2 linked regions of the Homo sapiens genome follow. The protein of the gene in region 1 interacts with the protein of each later gene in a pairwise test. Each region holds a gene or a part of one and is shown on either strand. Other genes may lie near its edges. The genes, in order: ADGRF5 and NFYC.

Region 1 (4,356 bases):
CGATGGACAGCAGGTGATAGAACTTGCTAATATCTGGACAAAGCAATAGTTTAGTCTAACTTTAGATTCCCAGCAAACATCTACCATGTGGCTACAAAGCTGACAGAATCCAGCCAATCGCATCAATTCTCTATTCCACATGACTTTTATCCTCATAGTACTGACATAAAAAAAATGGGGCTGCAAAGACAGTAATCTGAGTTTCTTCTCATCTCAGTCCTCCAAAAAAATTCATTGTGCCATTGAGGCAAATAAATTAACCTCTGAACTTCCTGTTTTTGTATTCCATTAGATGAGAATAAGTTACCTGCTTTACCTGTGACATGGTGAAAGAAGAGGCATAAAAGTCTTTTGATAACTAAAAAGTTGCATATAAATACAAGAGATTGAATGCATAATATTTAGGAGGAGACAGATTAGCCTCATTAACGTGAGGAGGTGGGACCCCATGGGATATTTTTAACTGCTCCAAAATGCCCCCAAGTACCCCATAGCGCAGTAAGTGAGGTTACTATATCATAGTCAATAAACCCACACTCAGTAAGTGAGGCAGTGTTAGTCTACAGGGCCTCAGTGGAGGTCTCTCATGTGGCTAACACTGTGCACTTGGAAGAAATGATTCATCGGAGTAGCCAGAGATCTGGAGAAGGGACAAAGGCAGGCAAATTTTACAGAACGTCCAAAATCAGCAAGGCCTAGTGGCTCTATAGTTTGGGGTGGAGAAACCCTGTAAAGAACAAGAAAATATGAAATAGCTATTGAAAGTGTTCGTATTATTCTTGGGTTTGATACTGCTTATTTATACCTTTTTCCCAAAGGCTCTCTCCATAAGCTGTATTAACTTGTTCATAGTGATGTTTTCCTTATTTGCTTGTCTCTTAACATTGTTGGTGGGGAGGGGAAGGCCACCTTTTTACAGAAGACTAAAAGAGATGGAAAATGAACCGATCTGTTAAATGCATTTATTATCCACTGAATAAAAGGGCAATCTCTCCTGTCTTCACTCTACGTTCTCTGGGCCACTTTATCTATCAATCTAGCTATTATCTATCTAGTTAATTTCCTGTTATTTTATCTTCTCCCCTTTCATTTCTAGAATAAGAAACTTCTGATGCCCTTCAAGGGAAAAGCCCAAACCACTAATTGGCAAATCTAGAATTTAATCCTTAGGAGGTTGTTACTAATATTATTAATTGTCAAAGCCAAAACCAACACAAAATAGTAATGGTAAAAATGAGTAAAACTCTTTATACTTTTCTAAGAGTTAAAAGAGCTATTCATGTTTCCCATGTATCATTTTATCTTTCACTGAGAGGAAGGAGTTTAGGATAAATCACAAGAACTTGACAATGAGAATTTATTGTACTCCTGTGCCCCGGCTTGTCCTATAGAGCTCAGAAGAACAGAAAATAAAGCCTTTAACTGGTAACACAGAAAACAATTGATAGAATAATATTTGGGGGGGGGGAAGAGAGTGTATATTGGGGGTGCAATTGAAAACTGTTAACAGAAAGCTGGCTGCGATGGCTGACACCCGTAATTCCAGCATTTTGGGAGGCCGAGGCAGGTGGATCACCTGAGGTCAGGAGTTCGAGACCAACCTGGCTAACATGGTGAAACCCCATCTCTACTAAAAATACAAAAATTAGCAGGGTGTGGTGGCGGGTGCCTGTAATCCCAGCTGCTTGGGAGGTTGAGGCAGGAGGATCGTTTGAACCCGGGAGGCAGAGGTTGTAGTGAACCAAGATCGTGCCACTGCACTCCAACCTGGGCGACAGAGCAAGACTCCATCTCAAAAAAATAAAAATAAAAATAAAATCTATTTAGAGATATTCTTTTACGATAAGAATATAGTCAAGTATTATCTGTGTAATTCAAAAATAACCTACATTGAAAAACCAACTACGTTAGCCCTTTATGAAAGAAAAAATGCTGTAGTGAAGTGGCATGACCTGGCTTTCTGAAATATGAGAAAACATGGTTTAAGCAAACCGCACATCATAGAGTTGCTCCTTTCAAAACAAGTCGGCCTGGCCCTGAAGCCCCAGCACTTTTACTGACCTCCTTCCTAATGCTGACTACAAACTCCTTTCCCCTCAGTCCTGTGTGGGAGGCTGCAGCCTACATTTTACATTTCTAAGGTCATCCCTTGTCCTTTGGAAGGACTCTCCCGAAGCTGAGCGAATAGCCAGGGCTCCCTCCTCCTGCTACTGGGATGCAGCCTCTTCCTTCCTCAGCCTGACCACAGCAATGGCCGACTGGCCCTGAAATGCTCTTGGCAAGAGCAGCAGCTCAGTAGCTCATGAATGCACTGGTTTTTATAGTATTTTCTGGTTTAAGGACGAGAGAACTTGTTTGAAAAAAAAAAAGTCTGTTATTAAGAAAATCCTAAAGGATCCCAGCTAGTTGCTTGATACGCCATCTCCTTTAATATAGTCTCATTAACTGGACCAACAGTATGCACAATGCTCTTGACTGGACATACTTAACTTTCCCAACATACATATCACACCTACGCAAAAGAAAAGCAGGCAAAGAGGATCGTAAGTGGAAGATGTCTTAAGAGAAGTGACTTAGGAGCCCCTGAGGTCTTGCTACAAAGGGAGACAGAATGACAGACCGCAGTAGGAGAAATGTCTGTTACCTGTCCAGCACTGTGGTCCCCCGGCTGGCTCCCGCTCTGATCAGATGCCTAAAAGCTTCCCAGTTTCCACTATGGGGCCATTTGTCCTGGGCCTCCTGGGCAGGGGCTCTCACGCCCAGTGGAGGGAGAACCAAGCAAGACTCATTTCGCGTTTTCAGGCAGGACTGGCAGCACCGCTCCCACGCTCAGCCTCCCCCAGCTATGATCCTCCCAGTCTCACAGAGTCATCCCTGAGAGCCGCGCTGCTGTTTTAAAAACAAAAAGTGATTTCCTGGTCCTCTTCCCCGGATGGCGTGTGCGATTTCCCTCACGCCCATGGGAAGTCCTTCAGATCCTTCTTATCTGGAAACCTCTCCACCAAGTGGACAGACTTGTTTGGCCAATGCCCCTAGTTCTCACTTTTCTTTCTCCAAAGAAAAAAATCAGAAAAGCAAAACCAGAGCAAACCAAACATAGGTTAGAGCTAATGAGAAGTACAGGATGTCTGGTTTCAACTTTTAAAAGATGACCACTAAATTAGATTGTAACTTCAGAGAGGAAGGAAAATTAAGACTATCGATGAATTCTTTGTCTTTAGCAGTGCCAAGAAAGCAGAGAAAAAAAGAATCCGCAGAAGAGAAGAGACCTAGAGAAGTTGCTTAGTCCTCCCCCGCGGGAGGGCTGTACCTCAAAAATGCCATATTGGAGGGACGTCCAGTTCTCCTAGGTTTCCAGGGAAACTCTGTGAGTATTTGTGTATCAAACTATAAATTTAGTGGTACTTAAAATACCGCTCAATAGCATGGATATTTAAAGATAAGGAGATATATGGTAAAGGCCTGGTTGGCAGGCTGCATCCAGGTTGCTGGGTTTAAAGATGAATTATAGTCAGCTCATTTTTGAACTGGAAGTGACCTCACTGATCCTCATTTTACAAAAGAGGAAACTGAGGCCCAAGGAGAACCCTTCCCAAGGTCAGAACACGGATGGGGAATGCTGTTTGACTCTCTACTCTGGAGCTCTGCCCACAGAAAGTTTGATGAATGAGGCCTGGCTTGGAATCGGCATTGGAAATAAGTGCTTCGGGTGAGTCCCATGCAGGTAGTCCCAAGAGTATCTTCAGGGAATTCCTCATAGTGTCAAAGAAAGGACTCTGGAGTCAGACTGTAGGAACTGATGCTTTAGTCCCACCAATTATATGTGGCCGGGTACACATTACTTGACCCTATTGAGATTCAGTGTTGTTTTGTTTTTAGACGGAGTCTCGCTCTGTCTCCCAGGCTAGAGTCCAGTGGCGCGATCTTGGCTCACTGCAACCTCTGCCTCCTGGGTTCAAGCGATTCTCCTGCCTCAGCTTTCCCAGTAGCTGGGACTGTAGGTGCCTACCAGCACATCTGGCTAATTTTTGTATTTTTAATAGAGACAGGGTCTCTCCATGTTGGCCAGGCTGGTCTCAAACTCCTGACCTCAGGTAATCCCCAGCCTCGGCCTCCCAAAGTGCTGGGATTACAGGCGTGAGCCACTGCTCCTGGCCCTGAGATTCAGTTTTATTGTGTGTGAAAGTGGGATAATAATAGTACTGAGTTTATAGACTCTGCTGAAACTGAAGAGGAAGAGTTTAGTAACTGTTTGTTGTTCTCTGGAGCCCTGGGCTCCAATGCCTCCAAGTTCATCCTCTCTCCCCTCCAGCTGCCTTCCCTTCTTGTCATGCTATCAGCCTGTAGCAAGTCAGC
Region 2 (3,817 bases), on another chromosome or scaffold:
GAATTGATCTTGAAGGGAGCTTTAACTGGATCTCTCTGGATCCACAGACTAACTTCAAGGCAACATAAATTTTGTGACTTCAACATGCATATCATTTATTGGAGCTCAGTATTTTTTGCTTTTTTTGCTTTAAAACTTTCATATAGTAATGTACACAAATCCTAACTTTATGACGCATTGACAAGCTGTACTAGAATGCAGGCTTCCCACAGATAAGGATTTTTGTCTGTTGTGTGTATCGTTAATCCCCAGAGCCTAGAAAAGTGCCCGGCACATTGTGGGTGTTCAGTAAGTATTTTTAGAATAAATGAATAAACACATGCATTTTCTACTTTGTAGGTAAAGGGAAACAAGAAGAGAAAATAATTTACTTTCTTGGCTTCATTGTTAAAATACTGCCACCACTGTTTTATACTTGTTACACTCTTCTTCTTGTATCTGGGAAATCTTTCCTCTAAGAGCCAGGGCTTGGCTATAGGGTGAGGGTTTCTAGAGTCAATGACCAAGGGCTCTGCATACAGTATGAATGTGAATTCGCTAGGTTAAAAATTAAAATTAAAAAAAAAAGAAGAAGAAAAAGAAAAGGACTCCCAGGAAGGCTGACAAGGAACAAAAAGCCTAATGAAGCTAGTGAGACTGATGATACTTCCTGGAATCTCTCAAGGCTCCCAACCAGAAGTTGATTACGTTTGGAAACAGGTAAATACTCTTATCACTTGAGCCTCTGTTTATAGTGAGGGCTCACCAAGGGAAAAGAGTTCAGTCACTAAGCTGTGAAAACCAGGAGAGAATTGATTAAGATTTTTGGTGGAGAAACACAATCACCATGGCTAGAAGGTATGTCTGCCTCCCAACAGTGGTGATGCCAATGACACGTCAGCTTGATAGAGGCCTAAAGGAGAACAATCTTTGGTCCTAAAGGAGAACAATCTTTGGTCCTAAAGGAGAACAATCTTTCTCCAACACCACGCAGGAAAACAGGCAAAGGCTGCTGCTTACCCCAGTTTTCCTAATCTAAGTCTGCAATAATACCTGTAGAGTCCGGCGCTTGTTATCTTCTGTGTGAATCCAGGCTCGAAGAGTCAACTCTGTGATAAAAATCTGGGCTGCCTTGGCAAAGAGTACAGGCGCTTCTGCACTGATCATCTGTAACAGACACAGGCCCTCCCTGTCAATCACCAGCAAGTCATGCAAACCAGTCTGTCTCTTGCCTCATTGCCTGGCATGGGACTATGGGGCAAGGGTCAAAAAATGAGGTGGTATACTCAAGAGATTCCAAGGTAAAATAAATCCATGAGTGGGAACAAAGCAGGTAACAGGGAGAAAGAATACTTATCTAGCACATACCATGCGCCAAACCTTGTGCAAGGTGTTTTCTTACTCTTATAATAGCCTTTCAAAGAAACTAGGGGTCAAGAGAGATGAAGTGACTTGCCCACAGCCATAGAGCCAGTAAGTGGCAGGGTTTAGGTTCTAATCCAAGGAGAAACAATATGAGGAAGGAGAATGAGCTTGAAAGCCAATGGATTTGGATAAAATTGCAGGCTTCCCATCCTTTTGGGCTTTTTCATGTACTGAAAAAGAGGATAACCTTTCAGTTTTATTGTGGCAATCAAATGAGATAATATATGTACCCAGCCCAGGGCTTGGCATATAGGAAATGCTCAAGCCATATAAACTTTCTTGATGTGTCTGATTTCAAAGTTGAAGCTCTTGGTCAAACAAGGTTCTAAACCTTTGGTGAGGTAGTCTGTGCAGGATACAGCCACAGAAAGAGCTCTGGAGTTAAAGAAGCAGCAGATGGGAAATGGGATCTTGGTCCTATCACTCTGGGTGAGTCACTTAACCTCTTTGTGTCTATTTCCATTGTCTGTAAAATGGAACTGATAATTCTTATTATATCAAATCTCACAGGGCTACTGTGAGGAAGAAAGGAGCTAATAAAAGGGAAAATTACTATCAATTGTTAGCTTTCTGTGAAAATACAAAAGACTATTAATTTTGAGTGGTAAAGAGACAGAGTTCCTCTTTCTCTGAGATCTGTAATGGAGATGGACTCCTAGGAATACAGAAATGGCCAAGCCCACGCAAACCCTCTCACAAGTATTATTCATGTAAAAGAAACTCATAGATCAAAAGGTTAGAACAGGTAGAATATCATTATCAAAAATTTCTTAAGAGTTCAGATCAACAAACTATGTAAGACGCTAAGATGATGGCACTGTCCTGTTGATTTGATGATACATGTATATACTACACTGTGAACAGAACTGTGAGATACCAGCTGGGCATGGTGGCTCATGCCTAATCCTAGCACTTTGGGAGGCTGAGGCTGGAGGACTGCTTGAGCCCAGGAGTTCGTGACTAGCCTGGACAACATGGTGAGATCCTGTCCCCCACTCCAAAAAAACATTAAAAATTAAGCCAGACATGATGGCACGTGCCTGTAGTCCCAGCTACTTGGGAGGCTGAGGTGGGAAGATCACTTAAGCCTGGGAGGTGAAGGCTACAGTGAGCCGTGATTATGCCATTGCCCTCCAGCCTGGGTGACAGAGTGAGACCCTGTCTCAAAAAGAAAGAAAAGGCCAGATGCGGTGGCTCACACCTGTAATCCCAGCACTTTGGGAGGCAGAGGCAGGCATATCACCTGAGGTCGGGAGTTCAAGACCAGCCTGGCCAACATGGTGAAACCCTGTCTCTACAAAAAATACAAAAATTAGCTAGGTGTGGTGGCGGGCGCCTGTAATCCTAGCTACTCGGGAGTCTGAGGCATGGGAATTGCCTGAACCTGGGAGGCAGAGGTTGCAGTGAGCTAAGCTCGCACCACTGCACTGCGGCCTGGATAACAGAGTAAAACTCTCAAAAAAAAAAAAAAAACCCAACATCAACTATTTTTTCAACATCTAAAAAATTTTCAGGATGATCCATATAGTAACCAAAACTGCTCAATTTTGGCTCACTTAACAATTTTGCACAGGAACCAAATAACAAAGCAACAGACAGTAATTTTTGTGTGTTCTTGTTTAATTAAACTTTGAGCTCTAGAGAAATGAGCAATAACCTACCCATCACTTAGCTTCAATAAGAAATAATAAAAATGAATGTGAATTCACCTTCACATCTTCATCCAGTTTCATAATCTTCTTAATACGAGCCAGTGGGAGTTCCTGCACTCGGAAGTCTTTCTGAAATGAACAACAAGAGATGCATAAATGGTGGGGACAATCAACAGTGTGGCAAAGCATGACAGGCAGTAGGAAACACTCTGGCTTGGTCCCTCTCTTCAGGAAGCGTATGTCGGGAGAGAAGGTACAGATGAAATGAAGAAAATACAAGCTCCAGAGCAAAATTCTTCTTTACTTAACATATGCAGGTCTTCAAAGAATTAATGGGCTTTAGAAAAAGCTTAGGATGGCCTCTAACAGTGCTCTCATGAAACACAGCCCCAAGCAATATCTGTTTTTTTTTTTTTTTCGTCAGCACAACATAGAGGGACATTATGAGCGCCTTCTTTTTTTTTCCAAGTAAGTTTACCAGTCTGCAATATGCAGATTAAAATGAGATTTCTGTCTCAGGGGTATTCCTCTAAACTGCCAGTTCTTTCTTCCATTCAGTGACCAAACTAACAGCAACGCCGGGGCACTTGACCACAGTGATCCACAGTTCTTTACAACTGATAGTGGCCATTTCTGACATTTGCACTAACCTGACAACAGAAACTGGGGAGGAGAGCTCCTTTCTCATCACAGTAGCAATGGCCTTGTCTCCAAAATTTGTTTCAAGTGGGGGTAGAGGAGTATAGAAAAAGGATGAGGGT

Evidence for each region.
Region 2: the proteins of ADGRF5 (region 1) and NFYC interact in binary tests that used the Homo sapiens proteins (3 or more experiments, as listed by UniProt).

The regions. Positions count from the first base shown.
Region 1 is NC_000006.12:46,919,069-46,923,424, forward strand, and holds the start of ADGRF5 (adhesion G protein-coupled receptor F5 precursor), read right to left. Parts: upstream 2,871-4,356; 5' UTR 2,645-2,870; intron 1-2,644. UniProt on the Homo sapiens protein: Adhesion G protein-coupled receptor. In alveolar type II (ATII or AT2) cells, required for normal lung surfactant homeostasis.
Region 2 is NC_000001.11:40,746,902-40,750,718, reverse strand, and holds part of NFYC (nuclear transcription factor Y subunit gamma), read right to left. Parts: intron 3,186-3,817; coding exon 3,114-3,185; intron 1,147-3,113; coding exon 1,033-1,146; intron 1-1,032. UniProt on the Homo sapiens protein: Component of the sequence-specific heterotrimeric transcription factor (NF-Y) which specifically recognizes a 5'-CCAAT-3' box motif found in the promoters of its target genes.